Regions from separate parts of the Homo sapiens genome. Here region 1 is linked to region 2. The links come from fine-mapping of genetic effects on gene expression. A gene starts in region 2. The other region holds a variant in brackets. All regions are shown on one strand. Distances are between the middles of the regions. Region 1 overlaps LDLRAP1 (low density lipoprotein receptor adaptor protein 1). Region 2 holds the start of LDLRAP1 (low density lipoprotein receptor adaptor protein 1).

What was found. PIP is the estimated chance that this variant, and not a neighbour inherited with it, causes the effect.
Region 1: its variant is fine-mapped to the expression of LDLRAP1 in whole blood (TOPMed, PIP above 0.99).

What each region holds. Positions count from the first base shown.
Region 1 is chr1:25,568,233-25,583,442 of GRCh38, reverse strand. LDLRAP1 (low density lipoprotein receptor adaptor protein 1) reads right to left here. Exons shown (of 9, transcript NM_015627.3): 9 at 14,557-15,210. Among named protein-coding and RNA genes, the nearest start is that of LDLRAP1, 32 kb to the right of the region's middle. RefSeq lists enhancers at 1,045-1,893, 5,062-5,983, 5,984-6,905, 8,599-9,466, 14,480-15,203 and 1 more. The variant G/A (reference allele first, on the strand shown) is at 10,846.
Region 2 is chr1:25,533,988-25,549,197 of GRCh38, reverse strand. LDLRAP1 (low density lipoprotein receptor adaptor protein 1) reads right to left here and starts at 5,592. Exons shown (of 9, transcript NM_015627.3): 1 at 5,412-5,592. The coding sequence starts at 5,499. RefSeq lists silencers at 5,093-5,272, 5,303-5,762 and an enhancer at 5,863-5,922.

The DNA.
Region 1 (15,210 bases), 34 kb before region 2:
AGTGGGCAGATCACTTGAGGTCAGAAGTTCGAGACCAGCCTGGCCAACATGGCGAAACCCCATCTCTACTAAAAAAGTATAAAAAATTAGCCAGGCATGGTGGCAGGCTCCTGTAATCCCAGCTATTCGGGAGGCTGAGGCACGAGAATCACTTGAACCTGGGAGATGGAGGTTACAGTGAGCTGAGATGGCTCCACTGCACTCCAGCCTGGGCAACAGAGTGAGACTCCACCAAAAAAAAAAAAAAAAATCCCCAAAAAAGCCAAAGGAAAAAAAACACCTCACCTACAGAGGAGCAAAGATAATTATATCCAACTTCTCAGAAACCATGCAAACAAAAAGAGAGTGGAATGGAATTTTTGTTTTTTTTTTTGAGATAGTCTCACTCTGTCCCCCAAGCTGGAGTGCAGTGGCACGATCTCGGCTCACTGTAAGCTCTGCCTCCCGGGTTCAAGTGATTCTCCTGCCTCAGCATCCCAAGTAGCTGGGACTACAGGCCTGCGTCACCACGCCTAGCTAATTTTAGTATTTTTAGTAGAGACGGGGTTTCACCATGTTGCCCAGGCTGGTCTCGAACTTCTAACCTCAGGTAATCCGCCCACCTCGGCCTCCCAAAGTGCTGGGATTACAGATGTGAGCCACCGTACCCGGCTCATTGTATACTTTAAATGAGTTGTATGATATGTGAATTATATCACAATAAAGCTGTTATTTTTAAAAGGATGGGGATTCAAGTCTAAGGTGATGAAAAAGTTCTGGAGATAGACAGTGGGGAAGGCTGTACAACAATGTCAGTGTATGTAATGCCATTGAACTGTATACTTTAAAAAGTCAAAATGGTAATTTTTTTTTTTTTTTTGAGATGGGGTCTCGCTCTGTCGCCAGGCTGGAGTGCAGTGGCACGATCTCGGATCACTGCAACCTCCACCTCCCAGGTTCAAGCGATTCTCCTGCCTCAGCCTCCTGAGTAGCTGGGACTACAGGTGCATGCCACCATGCCCAGCTAAGTTTTGTATTTTTAGTAGAGACGGGGTTTCACCGTGTTCGCCAGGATGGTCTCGATCTCCATATCTAGTGATCTGCCCGCCTTGGCCTCCCAAAGTGCTGGGATTACAGGCGTGAGCCACCACGCCCAGACCATTCTACCATAATTTTTTGAAATAAATTTTAAAATAGAGCGGGGGAAGTATCTTAGAACCAGATAATGCATCCCCAAATATTGGAGTCAGTGGGCCAAGGACGTACCAACTCAGTCAATGTCTGATGAAAGAATGAAGAGCTTCCCTTATTTGAGAGACAAGAAAACTGAGGCCCAAGGGGAAGCCATGGCACTGCCCAGGGCTGCACAACAGGGCCAAGGCAGAGATCAGGACCAGAACCCAGATAAGTTCCACCCCTGGGAAGCCCAGGCCTGCGCTGGGTGGGGCTGGATTTCACCAAGCCCCTCCCCCAGCTGTGCACATCTGTCCATCTCAGCGGGATGAGGCCGTTGCCCAGGAAGCTGGCCAAGGACTCAAACATCCAGGACAGAACAACAGAGGCGCTTCCAAGGGGCAGTATTGGCAGCCTCATGCTTGAACCTGAGCCCTACGGGGCTGCCCCCTCCTGCCTGGCTCTGGGGGCTGTATTCCTAAGGCCACACTTTGTCTCTTTACCCCAAATCCTCCTACCTCAGCAGGAGTACCGGGATGCGGTCCAGGTCAGCTACTGCCTGGGGGAGGCACTCAGCAGGTCCCTGCCCCTCCCGGGGTCTCCATTTCCCCTTCAGCATAGTCAGGTTTCATCCAGCTCTGCCGGTCCCACTCCTCAAATCTGCGCAGCCTTTGCTGACACTGCTGTCTTGGAACACTTAGCCCTTCAGGTGCCCTAGTTGGAGGGAAGAGACGCCCTGCCGTTAGAAGCCTCAGCCCAAGGTGGGAGACAGGGCCCTGCACACAGGAGCTCCCGATGTGTCAGAGGAGCGAGAGTTCTGCCCTTCAGAGCTTCCAGCCTGAAGAGGGAAACAGACCACCCCGGATTCAGCAACTCCTGGTCTGATGGGGGAGACCTGAACCATCACAGGAGTCTCCTGTGTCAGTGCTTGGGCCCTGTTTGGTATCTCTCTTTTTCAGAAACCCTCTCCTCTCCCTGGCTCAAGAGGCCAGGGGCCCATACCTACCTCTCTGCTTCTCAGAATTCAGCTGCCCTCCTAGTTTACTCAGCAGTGCCCCCGCCCCAGGCTGCTGGCTACAGCAAGCATCACGACAGAATGCCCATGTGCTGAGGCCCGGCAGAGAACACATGTTCCTCACACCCCATTTGCTTTTGGTGAGAAGCTCTCCAGCCCAGCACGGCACCCTCTTGGTCCAGGACCGGCCCCCAAGCAGGCCAATGGCAGTAACATCTAGAATTAGGAAGTACTCAGTCTAGACAGGCCCTTCCTGCTTTTGCTAAGGCCAACAGACTAAGGCTGGCCTCAATTTAGGGAAACTCCTCCAGAGCCTGGTTCTGAGCCTTCCGGGATTCATGGTGTCCTGCCGGGTTCTCACAGTACCCCAAAGCCTGGGGTTACTACTGATGAAGAAACTCAGAGCCTGGTCCCCATCTATAAAATGGGGTTGATAAAAGCAACACCTCTTGAAAGATAATTGTGGGCCAGGTGCAGTGGCTCACACCTGTAATCCAGCACTTTGGAAGGCCAAGGCAGGAGGACTGCTTGAGACCAAGAGTTCGAGACCAGCCCGGGCAATGTAGTGAGGCTCCATCTCTACAAAAAAAAATTAAAAAGTTAGCCAGGTATGGTGGCTCACACTTGTGGTCCCAGCTACTTGGGGGGCTGAGGAGGGAGGATCACCTGATCCCAGAAACGTCAAGGCTGCAATGAGCTGTGATTGTGCCACCGCACTTCAGCCTGGGCAATGTGAGACCCTGTCTCAAAAATAATAATAATTGTGAAGATTAAATTGAGATAATGAAGCCAAAATGTTAGCACAGTGTCTAGCCAAGGTGAATAATTTCTAGCTTTTGGTTTTGTTTTGTTTTTTTCTCACTCAGCATTCAAACCCCCTTTTTAATTTAATTTTTTTGTTTTAGAGACATTCTGTTACCCAGGCTGGAGTGCAGTGGTGCTCCTTAGCCTCCCAGAGTGCTGGGATTACAGGCAGGAGCCACTGTGCCCGGCCTCGAGCCTAGTGAACCTTACAGGAGACAGCTCTGTCTTCCCATGCAGAAGCTGATGTTCACCCTAGTCAGCTAGGAGCAGGCATGACACCGACTCCATCCACCAGGAGCCTACCCTGAATCTGCGGAGAACAGACAGAACAGACAGAAGCAGACATCTTCTGTAGGGACACCCTGCCTGTGTCCTGACTGCCAGCCTCCCTCGACAGCTGTTCTCTCTCTGAGCCCACTTCTCCAGCCGATTGCCTGAGCTCCTTGGTGTCTTTCCAATAAGTTCCTTTCTGCTTAAATTAGCGAGGGTCAGTTTCCATTGTTTTCAACTCAGAAACCTGGCGGGTTTGGAAATTGGTTGGAGGGGGTGGGTTTCGAGCTCCATACCCTTGGGGAAATGATGATCTGGTCTAGTCAGAGCTGAAGGAAGGGAAAATCCAGTTAGCGTTCAGGGATGAGAATCTAGCAGCTGTGGTAATGTAGTGGTGAAACAGCTAATTAAGTTATATTAATTAATTAAATTATGGCCTGTGGCCATCTGGGAAAAAAGTGCCATTGAAGGCAGAGCTTCGAGGGTCTGAGTCGACACTGCTATTGAACACATGAATGGCACGAAGATTTCAGAGATGGGGTAGCTGCTTCTGTGGCACTGGGCGATTCAAGGAAAAAAGAATAACAAGCTTAAATCCCTACATTCTTGGCTCAAGGCATGGACTGGAGCCTAGGAACTTTCTATAACTGTGCTGAAAACAATTCTCTTATCTTTGATGGCAGCAGGATTAAGTCTGTGAAAAACCAAATGTAAAATCTGACCCTTAGCATCACCACGTGACAGCGGCAGCTGAGCTCGCCGCCTCCTCTTCCTCTGCCTGCTGCCTAAATCCTATCAGTTCCTCTGGGTTGCTCCTGGGTTTTCTTCTCTTCTTGCCCTGCAGCCCTGCAGGGTGTGGGACGCATTTGGCCTCAAGTAACAGAAAGCTGCGCACGTGGAGGTGGATCCTGGTGCAGATCTGTGTGCAGGTGCTTTTCACTCCCAGCTCTGCTGTTCTCAGGGCTGGCCTCATCGAGTGGGGTGCTGGAGCTGGGTCTTTCTGCCTTGCAAGAACAGACTGTGTGCATCTTAACTCCAGGTTAAGTGATGTCATGTTGGTAGCCTGACATTGGCCATGGTGGCCATATTTATACTAGGAAATCGACAAGCGCTACAAGTCAAGGCTTTAAACAACACATGGAGAGGTGGCATACTGCATACTGTTAGCTTCATCCCAGATCTGGTCCTCTGAAGGGGTAGCATGGGTCACGTAAGACAAAGTAACAAATTTAAGAAGCCATGTTTCTCATTTCTGCATGCCAGCATAATTTCACAAGCCCCTGATTCTGTGACAACGTACAGCTCTCCAGAAAGATGCTTTAAAGACAAAACCCTCACGTCTCTCACCTGAGTCACTATATTCTTTAAAAGATAAATGGCCCCACACCAGGCACAGTGGCTCACACCTGTAATCCCAGCACTTTGGGAGGCCAAGGTGGATGGATTGATTGAGTCTCAGGAGTCTGAGACCAGCCTGGGCAACATGGTGAAACCTCATCTCTACAAAAAATATATAAATTAGCCAGGTGCAGTGGCATGTGTGCCTGTCGTCCCAGCTATTCAACAGGCTGAGGTGGAAGGGTCGCTTGGGCCGGGGAGGTTGAGGCTGCAGTGAGCCATGATCACACCACTGCACTGCACTCCAGCCTGGGCGACAGAGTGAGACCTTGTCTTAAGGAAAAAAAAAAAGACAAACGATCCTAGTCCTTGCCTTTTCCTACACATAAGGTAATGATGTCTAACGGGGTTAGTGATGATGCCTCTGTAATCTATCACCAGATGGACTCCTGCACCCAAATTTCAATGTGATTTTGCACTACCGAACCTCCACCAGCTGCATATCAGCAGTGGGCTCAAATGCCGTGCCGGAGTTGTCTGACAAACCCTCTCTGGAGGGCTGCTTGAGGGCCGTAGGCCTCTGTCTATAGTCATCAGCAAGACTTCTGTATAAAACTAATTTTAATGCTTTAAAAGCTTGATTTTTGTCTTTAGTCAACGGTCACCCGCTTCTTTGTGTGCTGAGGAGAGAGAGACAGAGAGAGAGAGAGAGGAAATAACTCTCCCAGTGTTCCCTGAAGAGCCAGAGCCCTGTTGGGGTGAGATCTCTGAACAAAACTGTCTTTTTCAGGGAATGAGGAAAGAGCAAATGGAGGTGGGGGGCTCACCCACACCTGCCGCTTCACTGATGACAGAGCTACGTCCCCAGCCCAGATGCCCCCTGAGCTCCCGACCTGTGTAACTGATGACCTGCTGGAGACCTCCACTGCGACAATCCTAACAACAGTCCCAATAGCTGGTGCACACGCACTGACGTGGGCCAGGCACTGTTCCAAGTGCTCTCTGCAGCTCCTCTCATCCACACAAGAGCCCCACTATCACCCCCATTTACAGATGGGGAAGATGAGGCTCCGAGGGTGGCATAACCTGCCCAGGTCACTTGCCAGAGCCAACTCACGGTGATGCCGGGACCTGAGCCTGCCACCCGGCGCCAGGCCTCTGCTATGCACCCTGTCTTGTCCCCGCCAGGTGCCTCAAATGCTCCGCCTTCCCTCACACCTGCTTGGAGCCCTTCCCCTCCTCGTCTAACTTCAACACAGTGAGGTCTCACCGCAGGCCTCCCTGCTGTAGAAAGCCTTCCTAACCGCACACCAGGCTCGACGCTCATCTCTGGCTGGCATGTGACTCTGCCTCCTGCACTGGGCGTGGTAACTGTCTGGCTCCTCGTCTGTTCCCTGCATGAACCTCGAGTTCCTTGAGGGCAGGAAACCAGCCCAGGACCTGCCCACAGGGCCACCTGGTAAGGAACAGGTCAGGGAAAGCCCAGCCCAGGTCCTGGTGGTCCTGGCACGTCCCCTCTGCCTAGCCATCCAGGCTCGCATCCTGGCAGCCCCTCCCCCACTCCACCTCCCAGCTGGGTCTGCTCCTCACACTCAGCAAGGCTCTCCTCAGCTCCGTTCATCAGCCTCCTTCCTGCTCTACTCTTTTATTAAGATTCTAATTAAATAATTCTAATTAAATGTAATGAGCTGATTCCACAAATTTATTGCAATAAAGCAGCGTTCAGGACATGCTTCCTCCCGATCTTTCTCAGGAGGTGAATGCGGGGATGGCACAGGGTCTCTGCTGCCTGGGGTGACTAAGTGGGGCTAGGACCGACTGCCACGCTCGCAGGAACATCGCCATGGAGAGCCGCCCCAGGCTCCCTGCACCGGGCAGAAGCTCCTCTGCTCTTAGAGACAGCAGGTACAGGCCTGAACCCCACCGCTGGCTCCTCCTTGGGTCTGTGTCTCAGGCCACTCCTAGTGCCTCTGCCTGATGGCACCACGCTGCCACCTCCACATCAGGAGGGGCAGCCTCCTTCTGTGTGACCTTAGCCAAGTCCCACCCCAAATCTGGGCCCCATCTCAGTTTCCACTGAAGGGCAGGCCGGATGGGGTGGGAGAGAGCCTCTGTGAAAGATAAAGTGGATGGTGTGTTGGGTTAGGATTGGCCTTGAATCTTGGCCCCGTTCCTTTCTGGCTGTGTGGCCTGTGGCAAGTTGCTTCATCTCTCTGAGCCTCAGTAGTAACAGCCACCACTGGCCGGGCACCCAAAGCCAGGCGCTCTGCTTTCCTTTCACCGTCTCATACTGCTACTTTTGTTTTTATTTTGTTTTATTTTGTTTTTTGTTTTTTTGAGATGGAGTTTCACTCTTGTTGACCAGGCTAGAGCGCAGTGGCACGGTCTCGGCTCACTGCAACCTCTGCCTTCTGGTTTCAAGTGATTCTCCTGCCCCAGCCTCCCCAGTAGCTGCGATTACAGGCATGTGCCACCACACCCGGCTTATTTTGTATTTTTAGTAGAAATGGGGTTTCTCCATGTTGGTTAGGCTGGTCTTGAACTCCCGACCTCAAGCGATCCACCTGCTTTCACCTCCCAAAGTGCTGGAATTACAGGCGTGAGCCACCACGTCTGGCCTACTTTTGTTTTTTTTGAGGAGTCTCACTCTGTTGCCCAGGCTGGAGTGCAGTGGCACGATCTTGGCTCACTGCAACCTCTGCCTCCCGAATTCAAGTGATCTTCCTGCTTCGGCCTCCCGAGTAGCTGGGATTACAGGCACATGCCACCATGCCCGGCTAATTTTTTTTTTTTTTTTAATAGAGATGGGGTTTCACCATGTTGGCCAGGCTGGTCTCAAACTCCTGACCTCAACTGATCCGCTCACCTTGGCCTCCCGAAGTGCTGGGATTACAGGCGTGAGCCACCACACCCAGCCTCATGCTGCTGCTTTTGAAGTCAGACTGCCTGGTTCAAATCCTGGCTCTACTAGTTCCCAGCTGAGTGACCATGGGCAAGTCATGCCATCTCTCTGGGCCTCAGTTTCCTCTTCTGCAAAATGGGGCCTGTACCCATTCCAGAGAGTTATTGTGAGAAGCCCATGGGGTCGTTTGTGTAAAGCTCTTAGCCCAGGGCTGGGCACATACTCAGTGCTCATTTAATCTCCACAGTAGGCCCAAGACGCCGGTCCCGCCTCTACAGATAAGGAAACGGAGCAGCCATTTGACTAAGGTTTTTGAACTAGGAAATGACAAAGTGAGATTTTTGTTTGTTTGTTTGTTTGTTTTTGTAAGACAGGGTCTCATTCTGTGGCCGAGGCTGGAGTACAGTGGTGCAATCACAGCTCACTACAGCCTTGACTTTCCAGGCTCAAGTGATCTTCCCACCTCAGTCTCCTGAGTAGCTGGGACTACAGATGCATGCCACCATGCACAGCTGGTTTTTTTTTTTTTTTTTTTTTTAGTAGAGACAGGGTTTCTCCAGGTTGCTCATGCTGGTCTCAAATTTCCGGACTCTAGTGATTCACCTGCCTCAGCCTTCCAAAGTGCTTGGATTACAGGCATGAGCCCCTATGCCTGGGCAAAAGTGGGATTTGAACCCAGGTCCTTCTGACTTCTACCTCCATGCTCTTTCCACAGTGCTGGAGTCCTGGCTTTCCCAGGAGGCCCCCAGGTTTAGAGATCTGACTCTTCCTTGGGGCTGGCAAGGCCCAAACATCATACAGTCTTCCCACCCGGGTAGTGAGAGCCCTGGTCCAGCCTTGCGGCCCGAAGAAAGGGTCTCTGAGTTTAAAGCACTGCATTTGGGGACCGGGACGGTGAGTCGTCCCTACCTCAGCTGTTAGAGACCGCTGGGGAGGAGACCCTGAACCCAAGTATCCAAGAAGCACAGGCCAGTCCTACTGGGTCCTGGGTGCTGTCTGTTTCCATTCGTTCCAAGAACTACAGCTGAGCTGTGGAATGTCAAGTGAGCATGAAACAGACAATGACAGGCCAAAGTCAAAGACACCCCTCACTGCTGCCCACTACGGACAAGCAGGAACCCACAGACGCACAAGGAAACACACAGGCCTCTCACCCTTGACTCATGTACAGACCTTCAGGTCTACACGCTCCTGGCACATACAGGCCCACGGAGCCAACACAGGCTCACTCATGCACACCCAGAGAAATGATATAGCATGCCCAGAACACTCGCTGCATCAGCCTCTTGCTCGGCTGGCAGGGACCAAGAGACACCAGCCCTCCACATCACACGGGGATACACCAATCTCTGACTCAGGCTACTGCCAGAGGCCCACAGACACCCACAGGGCTCCCGACACACAGATTTGGGACCACCACCAAACCCAGGCAGCTGGCCATGCACACATCCTTTTCTTCAACAAATCTGGAAGCCCCCCGCTCAGACAACAGAGCAGGAGGACATGGGGTTGCCTTTTCAACCTTCCATCTGCCCGCTTGCAAGCCCGGAGGTTGCTCTCTCTTGGGCTTGACCCTGGATGACAGCCTCAGTATCCTAGAGCCTCAGTCTCTGCATTGCCCCTGGCTGTGCAGCCTTCGTGTCCTCGAGACCCCACACTGAGCCCTGCACAGCAGGTCTGAGCCTTGCCACCGCCCTGTGGTCCAGGCCTGCACCTGCTCTGAGCCCATTTCCCAGTCCACCTCCTTCCTCCCTCCTCTCCAGCCTCAGACTTCCTCCTGCCCTTGGCACATTCCAAACTGCAATCCTGGGGCTTTGCGCTTGCTCTTTGCCCTCTCAGGTGCCCTTTCTCTGGGGCCTCCCTACCTCCTCCAGCACTCTGTCCAACTCTGACCACCCCAGGTGCAGCAGCGCTGCCGGCCAGGCCACTCCCCTTCCCCCCACCGCCCTTTTTCCTTTGGAGTGCTTACACCACACCTATTTTTACGTATTTACAAATATTTATACATATTTGGGGGAGCGTCAGCTCCATGAGGATGGGGATTTCTGCTGTTTTGTTTGCTGCCATGTTCCAGACGCCTGGCATGCATCCTGGCATGTGGTGGGCACTCAATCACTGGGCATTGGATGAATGAGCCTGGCTCAGGGAGAGGCAGGAGCAGGCCCCGCCTGTGTGAAATAGCCCCGGGGTGCTGTCCTAGCTTTTCACATCTCGATCAGGTCAGTTCATGGCCTCACATGGCTGTCCTAAGGATTACGTAACGTGTGCAAAGCCTCGGCATAGCTCCCGACATAGGTGTGGCAGCCAGGTTTTCTCCGGGCTAACCTCCCTCAGCTCCTTTTACCCTCCCTGCCCCCCAACAGTGTTGGGGTGGTGGGGTGCCAGGGGGTCTGCTGCATCTCAGCACCATTTCCCTTCCCTTCCCTGTGCCCTCCTGAGCCGCAAGGGCTGATGCCTGCAAACCACCTCTTCCCAACTTCCCTTGCCAGCAGCTTCCGGCCAGCTCTGCCCCGGGATGCAGCCACCGGGACCTACAGGAGCAGCAGCCGCCAGATCCCTGAGCCCCTGCAGGGACCACCTGCACCCTCGCCCTGCCAGGGCTTTTGTGATCTGGTGCTCTTCACTAAATCCCTTCCTACTGGAAACAGCTAGACTGCAACGCTTTCCTCACTAGACAGTAGAGTTTGTTGAGTTTTTCCTGAGGGCATAATGTGGTGGTCTCAACGTGGCGGGGCCTGAGTGTGCACCTGGGTGCATCAGGGGAGCTGGTAAGACACAACTTGTCTCCTCCCCACCTTGGCTACCCTGGGTGGGCCTTACCCCTGGGGAGAAACTGGTCTTCCCCACCCCCATCTGACCTCCCCCCGCCCCGCAAAGCAGCCCCTGTTTGGACTGCACCTTTATCCTATTTAACAGGTGAGGAGACTGAGATACAGGCTACTAAGTTGTTTCTGCGGCTAAAAATCGGCCGTCTGGGATTGAAAGCCAGTCCTGACGGCTGTGGCCCCAGAGGCTGCACTCGGAACTGCAGCTCCATGCCCCCTCTTCTAGGTGTCTGGCCAGCAGCCTGAGCTGCAGATGAGACTTCAGCGTCCTTGAGGGGGACAGTGGAGAGACGGATGATGAGCTGGTGCTCATTACATGCTCAAGAATCCACCAAGGTCCTTTCTCCAGCCTCTTCTTACCAACATCACATCCAGTTCCCTGCAAGCACATGGGCCCCTTCTAGCAAGAGTGGGAGGGACTTCTCTCTCCTTTACTCCAGGTTGATGGAGGACTGGGCATGGAGTCGGTGGAAAATACAGCTCAGATCCCAGCTCTCTTAACTGCCTGTGAGTCCCGGGCAAGTCCTGTGCCCTCTGCA[G/A]GTCTCAACTCCCCATTATAAGCTCAGTGGGTGGGCTGGGGAACCATCAGGGGCTCTCCCAGCATTAACATTCTAGAATCTCACTTTGAAGACAGCATGAAAACCAAGATCTTGGTTGGGGCAGAGGGTGGACCACACAACATTTTACCAAACCAGGCTGGGCATGCCATGCCATCGGCTGTGTGTGACGGAGACCCAGAGTGCCTAAGCCCAGTGCACCCAGTGCACACTGGGGAGCTGTCACAGGAAGGGTCTGACAGCCGGCAAAGTGGACTCCCAGGCTGCAGGGACTCCAGCGCTGCCTGCTGAGCCAGGGCTGCCCTTTCTCACAGCTCTCATGGGAGCCAGGCTGTTCTCCCCTCCTGATGAACTGACTCACTGATGGCCACTCTGTGCCAGGTGCTAGGCTGGGCACTGAGGCCATGGGGCAAATCAGACAGGCATGTCCTCAGGGAGCTCCCAGGCTAGCACATGCAGTCGCCAACCATTCTACCCTTCCTTTGATGCCCAGCAGGAATATGCCCCTCTTCTAAGAGCCTGACCTGGCTTCCCCAGCTGCCATACCTCAGCTCTGACTTCCAATGTCCCGCTGGCCTACTGCAAGCCCAGCTCATGCCCGGGGACTTTCCAGGGCACCATGAACTATAACCCCTGGACTGCGAGGGGGTCAAGAGCAGCTGTGCCTCAGTCACCCTGAGACAGGCCGTGCTGGGGCTCAGCAGGTGCAGTCAGAATTGCTGTCTGGCAACAAGGATTCATGACACAGCCCACATCTGTCCTGGCCACAAACGCACCATCTGATCCAGTACCTCTGTGCTGGACACTTGGCTAAGGTTACTCTGGGCTGGGTTCAGAAGTTCCTAAGCAAGCAAGGTCATCCTGATTTGCCAATGTCCCAAGTGACCTGCAGAGGCAGGGCCACCCAGCACAGTGGGGAACACACTGGCTCTGAGTCCCAGGCCTGCCTCCTAATAGCTGTGTGAGGCTGGCTGATCATGTAACCGCCACAGGCCTTGGTATCATCATCTCTAAAATGGGCTAACAATACGTGCAAGCACAGGGGCCGTGCAGCAGCTTAAACTAGCTGGTACGTGTGGATGCTGCTGGTGTTCAAGATGTGCACCCTCCTTCCTGCCCTTCCGAGGCTGGCATTCACCTCCCAGAGGAAGGCTTCCTTCTCTGAGGGGCACCAATGCTCACTGTGGGCCCCACTGGCAGGCTGAGCAGTGCCACTGGGGACAAAGCAGGGTCTCAATGCAATGAGACATACCCCTGTGGAGTTCTAAACTAGGCATGTCCAGAGAAGTGGCCCCAAAGGGCAGCCACTGGGGAAGAGGTGGGATCTGCTCTGGTGTCTAGCTAGGAAGTCAGCCTCTGCCTGTGGAGACACCCACTGGCCAGCAGCTTCCAGTGTCTTCCGTGGTAGCTGGGGCTGCTGGCGAGGCAGAGCAGGGCACACCAGGTCGGTTGGGGTTTGCCTTGATCTGCACGGAGAGGCACTGTGCAGTGGAAATCCGGAGCGCTGGGGTCAGAGAGCAGGGTTCAAATCCCAGATCCCCGAGTGGATGTGAGACTTTGGTCAACTTGTTGATCCTCCTTCACCCTCAGCTGCCTCATCAGGAAAATGGGACTAGGACCACCTACCTGGTAGCATGTGAGGTTGCAAGGACTAGTATCACCAGTGTTAGGTGCAAAAGACCTAACAGGCCCAAGGGTTACTTTATTTTTATTTTTATTTTGAGAAGGAGTCTCATTCTGTCGCCCAGGCTGGAGTGTAGTGGCCCGATCTCGGCTCACTGCAAGCTCCACCTCCTGGGTTCATGCCATTCTCCTGCCTCAGCCTCCCAAGTAGCTGGGACTACAGGCGCCCGCCACCACGCCTGGCTAATTTTTTGTATTTTTAGTAGAGACGGGGTTTCACCGTGTTAGCCAGGATGGTCTCGATCTCCTGACCTCGTGATCCGCCTGCCTCGGCCTCCCAAAGTGCTGGGATTACAGGTGTGAGCCACTGCGCCCGGCCGGGTTACTTCTTAATATACAAACGGGCACCTCCTCTGATGAGCACCTGGGAATGGCCGGAGGAAGACCAGGCCCCAAGCCAGCCCCCCAGATGTGAATCTGCCCCTATTCCCTAGCCAGGCTTGTTGAAAAGTCCCCAGATGTACATGGGATGGGATCTCTTCCTGGGAGAGCAGACCCCAACATCCACCCAGTGAAGCTGAAAGTCACGTCAAATCTGAAAGGCGACTTTGTTCTCCCTGGCTTCATCCCTTATGCATGAAAGAGCAGACGGCTGGCGCTCAGGATTCATAATCCGAGACATCCGGAGACTAAAGACATTGGCCAAATTTAAACCGAAAGATAAACTTGTTGGGTGTCTTTTCAGATTATGAGGGAAAGAAGAAAGGGGAGGATTTCTTAGTCATCCATGAACCACTGAGAATTCACAGGGAGTCAGCCTGATGCTGATATGAGGGCTCTGCCTCTGGGTTCTGGACGCTTAAAATACCAGTTTCAAAGGGATAAAGAGATACATGTCCAAGTGGACCCCCACAAGCCACAGCTGAGGGGCAGAGGCCTGGGGAATCTCCGGAGAGTGGCTGAAAGAACCTGAAGAGAGTGGCCTTTCTGTGAGGGTCACCGCACAGGTCAACAGGTGGTCTCGGGCAGCATATGGCCAGACTGGGCTCCTGGGAAGCCAGGACATGGCGGGGTAAGGGCCACACAGGTTGGCGGCTCAGCTGTGGCCCCGCCCAGCACTTGAAGCACAGCTGCCTTCCTCTCCCAGCCCAGTGTCCTCAGCAGTAACGGGAGCTAATGCCATCTGCCATCTGCGCTCAGCACAACCGTTGCAATATGGTGCAGAGCTCAGCACAACACCCGGCACATAGTAAGAGCTCAGTTAACACTGGTTGCTAACTATTTTACTTTACCATTTTTAGACATATTGAGTTCCAGTTGCCTTTGGTTCTGAGATAACCTGAATGCACAAGTGTTCTACCAACAATGTGATGATGGTCACCACTGAGTCACACAAAACCCAGGGTGGTAAAAAGCGGGGAGGTCATTGCACCATTTTCACAGACGGGAAAATCAAGGCTCAAGAGGTGACTGATCAAGTGTCACAGCCTCCAAGTGGCAGAGCTAGGGCTAGACCCTGAGTCTCTCAAGACACTGAAATACTTCCCACCATCCCCCAACACACCCAAACCACACATCCTGAGTTCATCTGGGCCACGCCTGGACCCCTGTCCCCAGTACTGAGACCCAGGCCCAGTCCACGTTCAGCCCGGAGCAAGTCTGTGGAATGATAAAGTGTTGCGGATCCAAAAAGTGATGGAAATAATGGACATCCTCTCTGTGGAAAACGCCCACGTGGACACGTACACAACCTCATGCACACTGCAGGGGACTCACAGCCTGGCCACAGTCCCCCGCCGGGGCTCTCAGACGCTTCAGCCGATGCACCAGATCCCTGGTGTAGCCTCCATGAGTCATCCAGAGGTGACCTCATCACACACACACCCAGCTGCTGGGTGAAAAGGGGGCCCCACTGGGCCTTCAACCCCAGGAACCTAAGACCATCACCCCCACTCAGTGCTGCCCCTGGGCACGCGGCCCCACCCAGCCTGTGGTCACTGCTGCTGCCATCCCCAAAGGGCAGGAGCCGCCGGACGCTGCCGCCAGTCTACTCCACCTGATGAGCGTTGCTTGAGTTTCAAAACGAGAACATTTATTATTTGTTTTTTCCTCATTAAAGTTTCACAAATAAAGCACAGCAAGACTTGTCTGCAGACACACAGGAGGCACACGGACAGCCCGTCAACCAGAGATGGAGACGAAGGCCAGCGTGGCTCTCACAGGGCAGCGCTTCTCAGAACCCCTGGCCCCCCTCGTGCCAAGGCTGGCCTGTGTCAGGCCTCGCCCACGCCGCCTTATGACAAATAGAGGCCGGTGCCAAGGAGGTGGCTACAGAGCAGGGGCAAGGAAGTTATCCTCATGTTCTGATAATGACCCTGCAAATCCCACCCCACCCTCAGGCACCTCCGTCTAAGGTGTCCGGTTACTCCAGGTAAGGAGGTTCCCAGGAGGGCCGTGTTTTCCCTAGGGCTGATGAAACTTGCTCCGACAAGCCAGGCCACTGGGAGGCACCTCAGGATGGAAAAGATGCTGGAGGCTTTGCTGGCTTTCAGGATGCCGGGAGCCCCACGGGGGCAAAAGGGGAGGAAGGAAAGCGATTCTAAAGACAGATTGCTGCTGGTCTGTCCCGACCCAGGGTCACAGTGTCAGCAAAGAGAACAGCATGATTCTGACAGGGTTGGATTTTGTTTCACCCTCGGAATGAGCAGACTTCAAACACTTGCA
Region 2 (15,210 bases):
GGTTCATCCCCTCAGGAGCGTCACCAGAAGTTTCTGGACGTGAAAAGTACTAGGAAAATTTCAGAAGTCAAAGCTGTTGAGATTGTTATCAAAAGAAAATAATTTTTAAAATGACAAATTGCAGCAGCTACCATTTCCTAAGTACCTACTTACACAGTAAGAGAAAAATATGCTATGGGCTGTGGAGTTCATAGTCACTGAACCTCCCTGGATCTCAGTGTCCTAACTTTAAAACAGGGACAAGACAGGCACAGTGGCTCATGCCTGTAATTCCAGTGTGCTAGGAGGCTGAGAAGGAAGGATTGCTTGAGGCCAGGAGTTCAAGACCAGCCTGGACAACATGGTAAGACCTCGTCTCTACAAAAAATAATTAGCTGGGCGTGGCAGTGTGCACCTGTAGTTCTAGCTACCCAGGAGGATCCCTTGAGCCCAGGAGGTCGAGGCTGCAGTAAGCTATGATCATATCACTGCATTCCAGCCTGGGCAATAGAGTGAGACCTTGTCTCAAATAAATAAATAAATAACAGGGACAATAGGAGTATCCACCTCAGCCAGGCGTGGTAGCTCATGTCTGTAATCCCAGCACTCTGGGTGGCCAAAGCAGGTGGATCACTTGAGGTCAGGAGTTCAGAACAGCCTGGCCAACATGGTGAAACACTGTCTCTACTAAAAATACAAAAAAATTAGCTGTGTGTGGTGGCAGGCGCCTGTAATCCCAGCTACTTGGGAGGCTGAGGCAGGAGAATCACTTAAACCAAGGAGGTGGAGGTTGCACTGAGCCAAGATCCCACTGCTGCACTCCAGCCTGGGCAACAGAAGGAGACTCCCTCTTAAAAAAAAAAAAAAAAAAAAAAAAAAAAAAGAGTATCCATCCATGGGGTTGTCTTGAGGATGAACTGAGTTCACACCCGAGGTGAGCTTAGAAGCTTGTCTGGTACATACCAAGTATCACAAGTGTGAGCTACTGTCATTACAGTGGTCAAATGCAAAGAGATTTAACGTGTCCATGACCATTCTCATATTGAGAGAAGAGTCCAGGATAGATCAGTGTTCCCATTTCACAGATAAAGAAGCTCAGAGGAGTTTGACCATGGCTCATAATTGACAGCACTGGGACTTCAGTCCATACCTGCCTCCTGCAGCCCAAGCCCCTTGCTGGGGTCAGGCAGAGCCCTGCAGGGCTGCTCAAAAAGAGTATCTGACCCTCAGTGGGCAGTGGGTGACCTCTGACTCCTTCAAGCCACATGCCCCTCACACAGCCCCCAGACCCGGGAGAAGCAGAGTCCTAGCCTCCAGTTCAACATTCCCTGCACTTGCTGTTCCCTCTAGCTGGAACACTGTTCCCAGACTCCTCCCTCCTGGGATTCACCGGTGTGTACCGAGTCACCTTCTCAGAGGGACCTTCCCTGGTGCTGTCAGTGGCCGCCCTTATCCTCCCTGCACACCATTTCCATGTTGTGCTGACTGCCAGTACCTGCCACTCTGCCTGCTGGAGATGCTGAGGCTGGCGCAGACTGGGGAATGAAGATCTCCCGACCCCAGGAGTCCTCTCCACCGGGCTTCCGGGAACTGCCCCTCCAGTGGAACGGCTCTGAAGAGCACGTTCTACACTGCCTCCCACAGTTCCCACAGCGGGGTTAAGCTCCAGGAGTCCCTGGTGGTAATTTGCTTTATTTATTTATTTATTTATTTATTTATTTATTTATTTATTATTTGAGACAAAGTCTCACTGTGTCCCCCAGGCTGGAGTGCAGTGGCGTGATCCCGGCTCACTGCAACCTCTGCCTCCCAAGTTCAAGCGATTCTCCTGCCTCAGCCTCCCAAGTAGCTGGGATTACAGGCCTGCACCACCCCACCCAGCTAATTTTTATATTTTAAGTAGAGATGGGGTTTCATCATGTTGGCCAGGCTGGTCTCGAACTCTTGACCTCAGGTGATCTGCCCACCTTGGTCTCCCAAAGTGCTGGGATTACAGGCATGAGCCACCGCGCCCTGCTGGTAATTTGCTTTATAATGCCCACTTTGTGGACTCCCCTCCCTTCTCACTTGTCCTAACAATATTTCCTGCCATCTTGTCCCAAATAAATGACTTGCACTCCAATCCTTGTCTCTAGAGGAACCCAAATGAAGACACCATCCTATCTTACAAAGCTGTCCCATCATTTCCTCACCCTGCTTTATTTTTATTTGTCCTGCTACCAATGTCCACAACCACACCACTGATCTACACCCTTGTTGTGGTGCACCAGACTGTAAGCCACAGATGTCCAATCTTTTGGCTTCCCTGGGCCACACTGGAAGAATTGTCTTGGGCCACACATAAAATATACTAATACTAATGATAGCTGATGAGCTTAAAAAAAAATCACAAAAAAACCCATAAGAAAGTTTATGAATTTGTGTTGGGCCACATTCATTTGCAATATCCTTTATTATAAATATTATAAATATGATTATATCCTCCCTCCCTTGCCTTCCACCATGAACTAGCTTTACTGGAACCTGCACCTCCTATTTCTTCACCCCTTCTCTCTGGGTAAGCACAACCCACAAAATAACCGGAGGGCCTGAATGATCCCAGTACCTCTGGAAAGAGTGCTGAGGGGCCAAGGTGAGCCCCTCTTCCAGGCAGCTGGAAGGAAAATGCCTGGCCAGGGACTGAGATAAAATATTGATGTCTCCCCAGGGGATAGGAAAAGCCATGTGTGGGAGAGGAAGAGAGCCCTCTTTCAAGGTCAGGACAACCAGGAATCCACTGCAGGCATGAAGCTGGGTGGAAAGAAGCCTGGGGTGCTGGCTTTGCTGTGTGACCTCAGGCAAGGTGCTGCCCTTCTCTGGGCTTCTTTCTCCACAAATAAGCAATGCTCATGCTAATCCTAGTGAGGACCTTGAGGAGGAGGAGCAGGTCACAACTGAGAGCAGGGTTCGAGTCTAACTTTAACTCCACTGGCTTCAGTTTGGCCTCAAAACTCAACCACAGGGACCAGGTCCAAGGCCAGGCTGGGTCACAACCCTGAGCAAGGTGACCCTAGCACCCCCACCCCCACATACCCCATGGCCCCTGCTCTAACCTGTGGCCACTGCTGTCAGAGGCTGCCAGCCCAGCGTGGGGTAGGTGGGGCCTGCTCCCAGCTCCTCCCATGGCAGAGTTCACCAAGCACACTGGTAAGACCCCTGCGCTAGGAATGTGGAGCTCTGCCTCTTAGATGCTCTGTGTCTGGAGCCAATGACTCCAATGCTCAGAGTCTCAGTTCCTTTGTCTCTAAAATGGGTCTGCTCTGTCACCTCACAGGAGTCAATGAGAGAATGGAAGCAAAAACAGGTTGTAAAACAGTTACAAAAGCAGCAGTTACCATTTACCAAACTCCTCCTCTATGCCAGGCAAACGCAATTCCACTTGATCCCCACAAACAGCTGGAGGCAGGTACTACTGTTATTTGCAATTTACAGGTGAGGAAATTGAGACTTCATCACGAGGGACAGGTGGGGCTCGGCCTGCCCTCCTTCAGATCCAGAGGCTCCAGGACAGCACTTTGGGCTTACCAGGGCCTGGAGGAGGGGGAGAGGTGCTCCTCTCCTTTCCTCCAAAGGTGCAGACAGGCTCGGGGCCCCCAAAACCCATCTCACCACAGTACTAATCATGCTGGCAGCGTCCCAAGGATAGGCAGGGGGAAGAGGAGCAGGGGAGAAGAAAGCCACCAGTTAGGAGGGAGCATTATTACCAATAATCTCCTTGATACTCCTGCCAGGTAAGAGTTTTTATCCCCATGTTGCAGATGAGGAAACCGAGGATCAGAAAGGACAAGTGACTTGCTCAAGATTGAAGATGGCAAGAGAAATTCTCTTCCACATCCAAAGCGGCTACCTCTTCCACGTCCCCAGATTCAGAGATATTTCTTTCTAGCCTCCCTTCCCTTGCCAGCCCCCCTTCCTTCAAAACCACTTCCCTGGGGGCTGCCCCACCACCCTCCCTCCCTCATTCCTGGAGAAAACCCGCAGGATTCTCCCACTGGAACAGATGGCCATCTCAGAAGTCCTGGTCAAATCTTGCCAGTTTTTAAAGGGTCTATTTTGGGATGCAATCAGTGTGATAAACGGTACATCCCCTGGCCTAGTGGCCCAGCCCTAATGGGTCTCTGACCCCACCCCCCACCAGCAGGCACCACCCCACATTCCCAATGCCAATGCCAGTCTCAGCTGGGAGGCGGCCACAGCTGAACAACAGAGTGGGGCCAGAGGAGGAGGGAGGCGGGCCCTCTAGGCCCAGACACGCTGGCACTCCTTGGACCAGGGAGCTCGGGCTCCCCTGGCAGAGCCCTGTAAGGCCAAGAGGGGATGGGATGAGGGGGTGCTGTACTGTCAGTTGTTTCCTGATGAGGGGAGAAGCTGTGGCCCGAAGTAGGTGGCAGGGAGGTGGGAGTGTGCAGCAGTCCTGGGCTCTGGCTCCAAAACCAGCAGGAAGGTGTGTGTGACCCCAGGCAAGCCACTCTCTTCTCCCTCCCAAACAACGAGACCTGCGCTAGGCTGGGTCTTCTGGCTTCAGGGGAAGGTGCCAGGTGACAAGTTCCCTGAGCGTAATCAGAGACTGGGGGAGAGAAAGGGGGGGAGGCCCCTCCCAGCCTCCCAGACGCCCCAGGGAGAGGTGGCGGCGAGTCTGTCGTTTGCCTGGGCACCCAAGGGACTCTGGAAGCCCGAGGGGAAAGGTGCGAGAGAAAACAGGTTTCAAAAATAGTCGGGACGCCAGGCTTGCCACCTGGACCCGGCTAGAGGAAGGGACGTAAGGGTCTAGATCGCCTGATGTGGGGCTCTCCCGAGGCACCCCAGGCGGGGCCTCGTTCCCAATTTCAAGTACGTACCTGCGACCCCGGGCTCACACCTGGATGGGTGTCTGGGCACCCGGAGTCAAAAGTTGGCCCGGTGGGTCGGGCAGGGGGCGGGAGAACGGGCCAGTGGGCTCCTGACCGCCGCAGCTGCTGGCTGGGGCGCAGGGGTGCGGGACGGGGGCGTCTTCCCAAGCCCCTGCGCCCTCTCCTCCTCCCCTAGGCACCGACGACGAGCGCCTGCCTCCCCCTAGCTGGCCAGGACAGCAGGGCGGGAGGTGCCGCGGGTGGCGGGGGCCTCTTCTCCCAACCTGCACCCCACCCCATGCCGGCTGCACCTGAGGACCCCGAGCTCGGGCTCCTTCCTCAGCGCTGCCCCTCCTCGCAGCGGCATCGAGCGGCCGGCGAGTAGGTGCACAACTTGACCCCGGCCGACCCCCTGCCCCGCAGGGCCGGGAAAGGGCCACGCCGGGACCGGAGCGCCGGTGAGGCCCCGCCTCTGCCCAACTTGGCCGCACTCCGGGCGCCCGCGGAGGCCCCGCGCGCCTCTGCCCGATCCCGGCCCGGCCCGGCTGACGCGCGCACACTCACTGCGGTGCCGGCCACCGCCCCCCCAGCTCTGCTTGGCCAAGCTGGGGCTCCGGATCAGCGCCCGCCCCGCCGACTTGAGCGCGTCCATGGCCCGCTCCGGCCGCCGCCGCCGCTGCCGCAGCCAAAACTCCGTCAGGAAAAACTTTCCGCCCGGCCCTGCGGCGCGCGGGCTGCGCGCTCCTCCCCTCCCAGCGCCAGCTCCGCCGCGGCGTCCGACGGGGCGGGGCGAGAGAGGACAGGCCCCGCCCCCAGACGGGCCGCGCCCCCGACGGCCGGTCTCGCCCCGCCCGGTCCCTGTCCAGGCTCCAGGTCCAGGCACCAAGAGTTTCCGAGGCCGCCCGAAGGCGCCAGAAGATAGCAAATCGCAAGCCCTAGACGCCCCCGCTTTCCTCCTTTTCCCCAATCCCCACCCCGTAGGGGCCTGAGGGCCTGAGAGCAGCGGCCTAGGATTTCCAGTGACCATTTTACAGATGGGGAGACTGAGGGCTCCTCCAGTGGTGAAAGATCTTGTTCAGGGACAAAAGCAATGCGATGTCCAGGGCAGTGGGAGACTTAGGAAATAGTGGAGGCTGTAAGCCAGGGATATCCAAACTTTTGGCTTCCTTAGGCCACATTGGAAGAAGAAGTGTCTTGGGCCACACATGAAATACACTAACACTAACGACAGCTGATGAGCTGAAATATATATATATACACACACACTCATGTTTTTTGTTTTTCTGTATTGTTTTTTTTCCCCTGAGACAGAGTTTCACTCTGTTGCCCAGGTTGGAGTGCAGTGGTGCGATCTCGGGTCACTGCAACCTCTACCTCCCGGGTTCAAGCTATTCTCATGCCTCAGCCTCCCGAGTAGCTGGGATTACAGGCATGCACCACCATGCCTGGCTAATTTTTGTATTATTAATAGAGATGGAGTTTTACCATGTTGGCCAGGCTGGTCTCGAACTCCTGACCTCAAGTGATCTGCCCGCCTCAGCCTCCCAAAGTGCTGGGATGGCTGTGAGCCACCACACCCTGCCCAAAAAAATCTCATAATGTTTTAAGAACCTTTACCAATTTGTGTTGGGCTCCATTCAAAGCCGTCCTGGACCTCACATGGCCAGTGGGCCACAGGTTGGACAAGCTTGCAGTATAGACCCTTGTTAGGCGCAGGGTCGGTATATAAAAATTTGCCTTTAGCAAGTCCAGCCAGGCACTTTACTCATCCTCGTAGCTCCCAGGCTGCTCCCTGGCACCACCTGAGCATGCTGGGCCACCCCATGCCCCCGCAACTTCCCAGGTAGCCTCACAGATGGTATGATCTGGAACGTGCCCCTGACACTGACTTGCTGTGTGACCTCAGGCAAGTACTTCCCCTCTCTGAGTCTTGTTTATCTGTGAATGAGAGTCAATGCTATCTCTAGTGATCCTTCCAACCTGCCAGGGTCAAGAATCTGCATGACCTTGACCCTGACCCCAAGCTGCTTCCTAGGAGCATTCGGAGGGCAGTCTGAACCCCAGAATTGCTCAGGCACAGATGTTCTAACTCCAGGATTGGAAGGATTTGTTCTAACTCTCTAGGATGCCATGCCTTCCTTTCAAACTGTGCCAAAAGGAGCCAGAGGGAGGACACACACATCCAAGCCACAGCCTGGCTTCTTTTAGAAGGGGGTGCCTCAGGCAAGGCCAACTTCAACCTCTGTAATTACTCCTGGCTCAGAAGCCAGCAGTCCTCTCTGTGTCGGGAGAAAGATAGTGCTGTGCTGTCCCCAGCTGGATAGGGCGGCCTCACTGACATTCCCCTGTTTATAAACCAAGTGCTTTGTTAGCCAGTCTGTCCTTGGCTTCCCCAGCAACACTGCTTAGGTGGACCCACTTTACAGATGACAGCCCTAGGTCAGGGAGGGAAGCATTCACTGATAGTCTCCGAGAGTCAGAGACTGGGATCAGACTCAGGCCCATAGGCAATGGGGTAGAGTATAATGCCAGGGGTTAGAACCCAGCTGTCCTTCTGGTGGTTGTGAACTCACCCTTCTGAGCCTCATCTGTAAAAGGGACAACTATATCTATTTCACAGGGCTGTCCTTAAGGACTAAATAACAGGAGTTGGAATGGCTGAATCCTGTTCTTGAGAACCCACCTTTAAAGTTGCCTCCTCCAGGAAGGCTTCCCTGACTACCACCCATGGATTAAGTTTCTCTTTGTGGGCGCCCACAGTCCTGAACTTTCAGGATTGCAAGCACTACTGCTGCCTGTTTATACTCCTCTCATCTCCATTAGACTTTGTACCCTCCAAAAGCAGGAAGTTTTTCTGATTCATTTCTGAATCCCAAATGCCTAGTAAGGGGTCCAAATGGAGTTGGAACACAGTCAGTGTTCCTGTCCTTCCTCCCTCCTTTCCTCCCCTTCTCCCTTTCTCCAGCTTTTCACCAAACCAGGCTGCCTTCTGCAAAAGGGCTGTGGCAATAGGTAGATGGGTCCACAGGGCTGAGTGCCCCCAGCTCACTTATCCCAAGCCAGCTAGATTCTGGAATAGTAGAGAGAGCATTCTGAAGCAGGGAGGAAAAGTGATCACCCAGGGCAGACTGGCCAAGGGCAGCTGGTGGTGTCCGGCTGGCAGGGGGCACCATATGGGCCTGATAAGCAGGAAGGCCTGGGAACGCTGCGTGTGCAACGAGAACTGTTTACCAGCCTTTGCAGTTTCCCGGAGATGGCTTGCTGCGAGCTGTCAGCCATGTGTCCCCTGCAGAGGGGCAGCCTGCTAGTGCCCCTTCTGCCAATCCCAGAAACAGAAGCAGAAACAGAAGGTCAGAGCTGCGAGTGGCCTCCTCTGAGGTCACTGTGGCCAAACCCTCATTTCACAGATGAGGAGCCTAAGGCCCAGAGAGGGACAGGGACTTACGCAAGGTTACACAGCAAGCCAGGAACAGATGCCAGGTCTCCTGCCTCCCACCTTGGATGCTTATAACAACGAGGAGGAGGCAAAGAAGTAGGGCCGCGTGCAGTGGCTCGTGCCTGTAATCCCAGCACTTTGGGAGACTGAGGCGGATCACCTGAGGTCGGGAATTTGAGACCAGCCTGACCAACGTGGAGAAACCCCGTCTCCACTAAAAATACAAAATTAGCCGGGCGTGGTGGCGCATGCCTGTGATCCCAGCTACTCGGGAGGCTGAGGCAGGAGAATCGCTTGAACCCAGGAGGCAGAGGTTGCAGTGAGCCGAGATCACGCCACTGCACTCCAGCCTGGGCGACAAGAGCGAATCTCCGTCTCAAAAAAAGAAAAGAAAAGAAAAGAAAAAAATAAGTCCTGAGATTCAAGAGGGGCTTGAAAGGGGATTTTTCTTTTCTCTTTTGTTTGGTTTTCTGTTTATCTGCTCTAACTTTGTAAACATTTCTGCAGTGATCATGTTCCTTTAGTAATCAGAAAAAGAACAATAAACGGGGTCGGGGAGCTACCTATAAGAATAAATGGCTTTTGTCTTTAGTCAAATGGCATCAGCTACAATCTTACTAATTTCTTCCTCAGTGGACCCACAGGACCCCAGCGAGATAGTGGATGCCAAGGAGTTGACAGGGCTGTCAGCCTCTCTCCAGCCATCATTTGGGCTTGCAGTGGGACCAAGACAAAAGCCTAAGCTGGGATGAGAGTCCCTGGTTTCCTCAGGTGGTCTGTCCTCCCTACTTCCCTGAGCCAATCCCTTCCTCTGTTTCTTCATCTGTAAAATGGGAGTTATTAGTGGAAGACACCAGAGCGCAGTAGTGAAGCACACTGATGCTGCATCCCGGGATCCAGGCTTCCCTATTTCTTTACTGCATGGCCTTAGGCAAATTATTTAAATTCCACAGGCCTCAGTTTCCTCTAAAATGTAAAATTGGTGCAATGGACTGAATGTTTCTGTCCTATCAAAATTCGTATGTCAAAATCCTAACCTTCAAGGTATCAGCAGATGGGGCCATTGGGAGGTAATCCTTTCATGAAAGCAGAGCCCTCATGAATGGGATGAGCATAAAGAAGACCCCAGAGAGATTCCTGGCCCTGTTCACTCTTACAGTGACAAGACAGCCATCTATGAACCAGGAAGCCGGCCCTCGCCAGACCGAATATGCCAACACCTTGAACTTGAACTTCCCAGCATCTGCAACTGTGAGAAATACATTTTTGTTGTTTATAAGGCAGCCGGCCTTTGGTATTTTTATTAGAGCAGCCTGAATAGACTAGAATAATGGGGATTACACCTCATGGAGTCATCATGAGGATTAAAAGTTAATGTAGGCTGGGTGCCGAGGCTCACGCCTGTAATCCCAACACTTTGGGAGGCCCAGGTGGGTGGATCACCTGAGGCCAGGAGTTTGAAACCAGCCTGGCCAACATAGTGAAACACCTTCTCTACTGAAATACAAAAATTAGCTGGGTGTGGTAGCAGGCGCCTGTAGTCCCACCTACAGGCTGGGACATTAACAAAAGTTAATGTTTGTGACATGTTTAGAATTCTGCCTGGCATATAGTAAGTGATGTATATGTTGCATATATATATATATATATATATACACTTTTTTTTTTTTGAGATGGAGTCTAGCTCCATCTTTTTTTTTTTTTTGAGTTGGAGTCTAGCTCTGTTGCCCAGGCTGGAGTGCAGTGGTGCCATCTCGGCTCACTGCAACCTCCGCCTCCCAGGTTCAAGTGATTCTCCTGCCTCAGCCTCCTGAGTAGCTAGGATTACAGGCACCCACCACCACGTCCAGCTAATTTTTGTATTTTCAGTAGAGACAGGGGTTTGACCATGTTGATCAGGCTGGTCTCGAACTCCTGACCTCGTGATCCGCCTGCCTCGGCCTTGCAAAAGTGCTGGGATTACAAGCATGAGCCACCATGCCCAGCCGCATATTTTAATAAAACTAAAATTGCTTTCCTAACTGGGTGAACAATGAAGATGACATGGCTGGAGTACCTATGAATATCATAATTCTTGGCTGGTCCCCAGGGAAGGGAGCTCTCTCTCCGGGTTGGAACCAGCATAGCCCAGTCTGAGGGGCAGGCAGGCTAACATCACACCTTCAATGGACAGGGTAGGGTTGCCCCATCCTAGCTGGGGCCCAGGTCGGAGACAGTACTCTCCTAGGGAGTCAGAGGGAGCCTGGGTTACTTACCGGTGAGTCACAAGCCCCAGGGCTCTGACCTTTTACCCCAAATGCAGGGCCTTTCCTGCCTGCTGTGCCCGCTGACCTGACCACCCCAACCAGTTGCCTCTGAACCCGTCCTCCCTCAGACCCTTCCCATGCAGCTGCTTCTTCCAGGAACATCCAGCCAGACTGCTTCAACTCTCCTGGCCTCTCTACCTTTGCCCTGAACAGCTACTTGGCCTCCTCCCTAACACCCATGATCACAGCCACCCACACACCAGTATTCTCTCCCCAACACACACACACTCCTAAACAACTGTTAGACCTTGGAGCTCCACATACCTTGGCTCTAAAACAAATCCTCCATGTATGTATATGTAACCTTAGCTATCTCTGAGCCTCAGTTTCCTCATCTGTATAGTGGGCATAATACCTACCTTAGAGGGCTTTGTAAGCCTTCTGTGGGATAATATATGGAAAATGCTTAGTCTAGTGCCAGGCGTGTGGCGAGCGCTCAGTAAATGGTAACAGGGTTGGGCACGGTGGCTCATGCCTGTAATCCCAGCACTTTGGGAGGCTGAGGTGGGTGGATCATCGCTTGAGCTCAGGAGTTCAAGACCAATCTGGGCAACAAAGCAAAACCTTGTCTCTATAAAACAAAATTTAAAAAATTAGCCGGGTATGGTGGCACACATCTGTGGTCCCAGCTTCTCAGGAGGCTGAGGTGGGAGGATCGCTTGAGCCCAGGAGGCAGAGGTTGCAGTGAGCTGAGACTGCGCCACTGAACTCCAGCCTGGGCGACAGAGACACTGTCTCAAAGAAATAAAAATGAAGATAAACTTTTTTTTTAAAGGGTAACTCTGGTTATCATTATCATGATTATGGTGAGCCTGTTTGCCTCTTCCAGCAGCTGGGCGTGCCTCAAGCATGGGGGCTGGAAATCAGCATTCATTCCAGGGGCTCCTAGAGCTGCTGACCAGTGCCTGGCACAAAGGAGATGCCCCATACACATCCAATGGCTTAATTTCTGTCTCTGGTTCTTATAGTGTCTGGCAAGTGGGTGAGGAAGGATGAGAAACAGCAGCCCCTAATGGGGCTGGGGAGGTGCTGCTGAGGGGAGCTCCTCGGTACCTACCCCTCCAAATAGCCCTCCGTGGTGGGACCAGCAGCTGTCTCCTCCCCCAGCCTAGCATCCACAGGGAGATCTCTAGGCTGTGGAGCCACTGAGCTAATTAAGAATGACAAAGCACCGTGTAATTGCCAGCAATTGATGAGTCCCCTGCCTCCTGCCCCCGCTTCCCTCGTCCTCCTTGGCACTGTCTGGCCTGGAGGTCACTGCATAGACATGGAGGCAGGCAGAGTGGTGTGACTGAGGACAGGCTGGTGTCAGGAGACCTGGGGGCTGGCCACCTCTGCCGCCCTCTTGCAGTGGCACTTTGGGCAAGGAAGTTCCCTTCTTAAGTTGGCTCTATTTCCCTTTTTCTGTCTACAGGGATCTTGACCTTGTGCTGAAAGGAGGTAGGAGGAGGGACAAAGTGAAGGGGCCAGGCCAAAGAGGACTCTGCTAAGGGGTCTGCTGCACCTTCCAGACTGGTTGAGTACAAGGCAGACAGCCTCAGGTTTGAGTCCCAAGCCCCACTCAGCAGCTGTGTGATCGTGGGCAGCCCACCTACCTACCGTCTCCATGCAGCAGGTTCCTCAGCTCTAAAATGGGACTCGCCTGAGAGCACTTAGCTCTTACTAGGACAACCTGCATGTGTTCTGAATCTGGGCCTATAAAGAGACCTCTGGACAAGCCCAATGCTATCAAAGAGAGTGTAGATATTAAGGGTTGAGAACTTTTAGAGCAATTTGATAGAGTAATTTTATGTCTGTTGAATCTCATTTTTAAAATTAGGCTTGTGTTTTTCGTCATTTTATTGTATTTTTCTAGTAATTCGTTTTCCTTGTATTTTACAAAAGCATTGGTCTGTGACAGAAGAGAAATTCTTTTAAAAATGGTCCTGCTCCACTGATGCTTCGAGAAGCATTACTTAGTGGACTTCATAAAACAGACATTGGTGGCAATCTTGCCATAATATCTATATAGTTCCAGGGTTTGATTTCCAGGAACCTTCAACTTCTCCAAAGCCTGTGAGATAAAGACCAAACCCCTTAGCCTGGCTTTCGAGGCCCTTCTCACTGAAGTCCCCACCCACCTTCCCATCCCTCGTCCTCCCCAGCCACATAGCCTTGTGATACTACCCTGTAACCCCTTCCCCTAAACTTCCTGTGTCCTCCTACTTCTCCATGCCTTTGCTGTTCCTTCTACCTGGAATGCCTTTCTCCAGTTTGCCCTCCAACTGGCAAACTCCTATTCATCCTTCAAAGCCCAGACTAAATGTCACCAATCCTGGGAAGCCTTTCCCAATGCCACTCCAGCACTCACCCCAGGTGGGGTTGCTCCCTTCTCCATACTTCACATGGAGCATGTGTGGGGACAGGACATCGCTATGGTTAAGGCTACAGGCTCAGCAGTCAGAACAATGTGGGCTTCAGACCTGACTTTGCCAGCTGCACAATCCTGGGCAGGTGACTTAATACTGCCGAGCCTCATTTTCCCGTCTGTGCAGTGGAGTCTAGAGGTGATACGTGAAAAGTTTCCAGCACCATGGCACACGGTAGAGACCTCAGATACGACAGCTGCTGTCAATGGTATCCCTTTGGTTCATAACTTTCCACATTGCTTTTCTGTCTCCCTACTAGGCTGGTTGCTACTTGAGAGGAGGCGTACTTGAGAGTGTCTGATTTGCCTAGATGTTTCCTGTGCCCAGCCCAGGGCTCGCACAGAGCCATGCGTTGAGTGTGGGTCTCTGGGTGCTCCCTGCCCCATGGTGCTGGCAGCTTGCTACCTTGTCGGTGGCGTGCTGATTAACCCAATTTCTGATTTGTACTGTTTGCCAATTTCCATGATGCAAATACACCCACCACGGCCAATTTCAAGTTACCAGAAGTTTAATAACCATCTTGCAAAACTGCTAAATATTGAACAACATGCTCATTTGAGCCACCTGGCTCCCGCACCCCTCCGGGTGTGGCTATGCCGAGCATAAGACGAACCAGAGCAGGCTTGGGTCCTGGTTGAGGGACCGGCTGCCTCCCATGCCCTCTGCCCAGCCAGCACATTGAGGGCCACCCAGGGAAGGGCCATAGGGTCAGTCATGCCCCACACAGAGGCCTTCGCTCATCTCGCTCCCCTAGGCCTCCAGCCCCGTTGTTTTCTGAGATAAAAGCTGTGAAATTGTTCATCTGTCTCCTCCCGCAGAAGGAAGAACAGAGGCTGGTTAAGGGGCCTGGCAGATCCATCCATCAGTGGTTCTTGGGGGCCTGGGCAAGAGGGTGCTAGCCATGCAGGCCACAGGGCCCAACTTGCAATAGCCCTGTCCCCACAGCTGTTGCAAGCGAATCAAGTTAAACCTGGTCACAATGGGGATCAAAGAAAGCTTGTGCACAACCTCCTCTAGCCTCCTTTCCTATGACCCCTTTATCTCCCAGGCTCAGAAGGGTCCCCACTTGGCATCTGCCATTACTGTCCTGCAATTCTTCATAACTTCTTTTTTTTTTTTTTTTTTTTTTTTGAGACAGAGTCTCACTCTGTCGCCCAGGCTGGAGTGCAGTGGCGCGATCTCAGCTCACTGCAACCTCCACCTCCTGGGTTCAAGCAATTCTCTTGCCTCAGCCTCTCCAGTAGTTGGGACTACAGGCACGCACCATCACACCCAGGTAATTTTTGTGTTTTTAGTAGAGACAGGGTCTCACCATGTTGGACAGGCTGGTCATGAACTCCTGGCCTCAGGTGATCTGCCTGCCTCGGCCTCCCAAAGTGTTGAGATTACAGGCGTGAGCCATCGCACCCAGCCAATTCTTCATAATTTCATCTTTGAATTTGTGTTTTGTACATGAAGTCTGATGGGACAGTGGAGCATGCCTAGAGTCTTTAGAGCCTCAGCTTAAGTGTGTGCCAGCTCCGCTGCTGCTCCCCTTCTGTTAGCACCTGTTCGCCTCCTATGCCTAGCTCCACTCTGCAGCTGTGCTGTCTCCTGTGCCAGGCAGGACCCTGGGCCCAGGCATGGGGGAGGGGGGATGGTTTGGAATCAGGTGCACACACCCTTCGTCATCTGGGGCAGGGCATGGCAGCAGCTCTCCCCACCCTGGGCTGGCAGCACCATGGCACATCTGGTGGGTAGCTGGCTAGAGGCCACATCTCAGCGGGGGAAAGACACTGATCCAGGGACTCAGCACATCCTGGCATGGAGGTTTAAAGACCCTTGGGGGTGGCCCATCTGCCAAGGGTTGGGGAAGTGGACCCGTGGGAAGGAGAGGCCCGGCTTGGCTTCAACACACCCTACTCACACCCGGCGTACCTTGCATCAGTCCAGTGTCTGTCTAGAGGGGAGCCTGGGAGAGTTGAGTGCTCACAGTAGGGTTCACGTGGACAATTTGACCACTGTCAGGCTCCAGAGAGTGGGCGTGTCCTCCACTGTGGGGTGGCGCCCCTGGGCACCTATGAGGGTCTTTATGAGTCTTCCTGTGCCCAGAAGCACTTTCTCACCTGTGCTGAGGGGATGGCCTCTTCCTCCTTCCAATCTTCCTGCATCTGACTTATGTCTGTCTCTTCTGGCCGGCTTGAGGCACCCTCAGGGATGAGCCATGAAAGAAA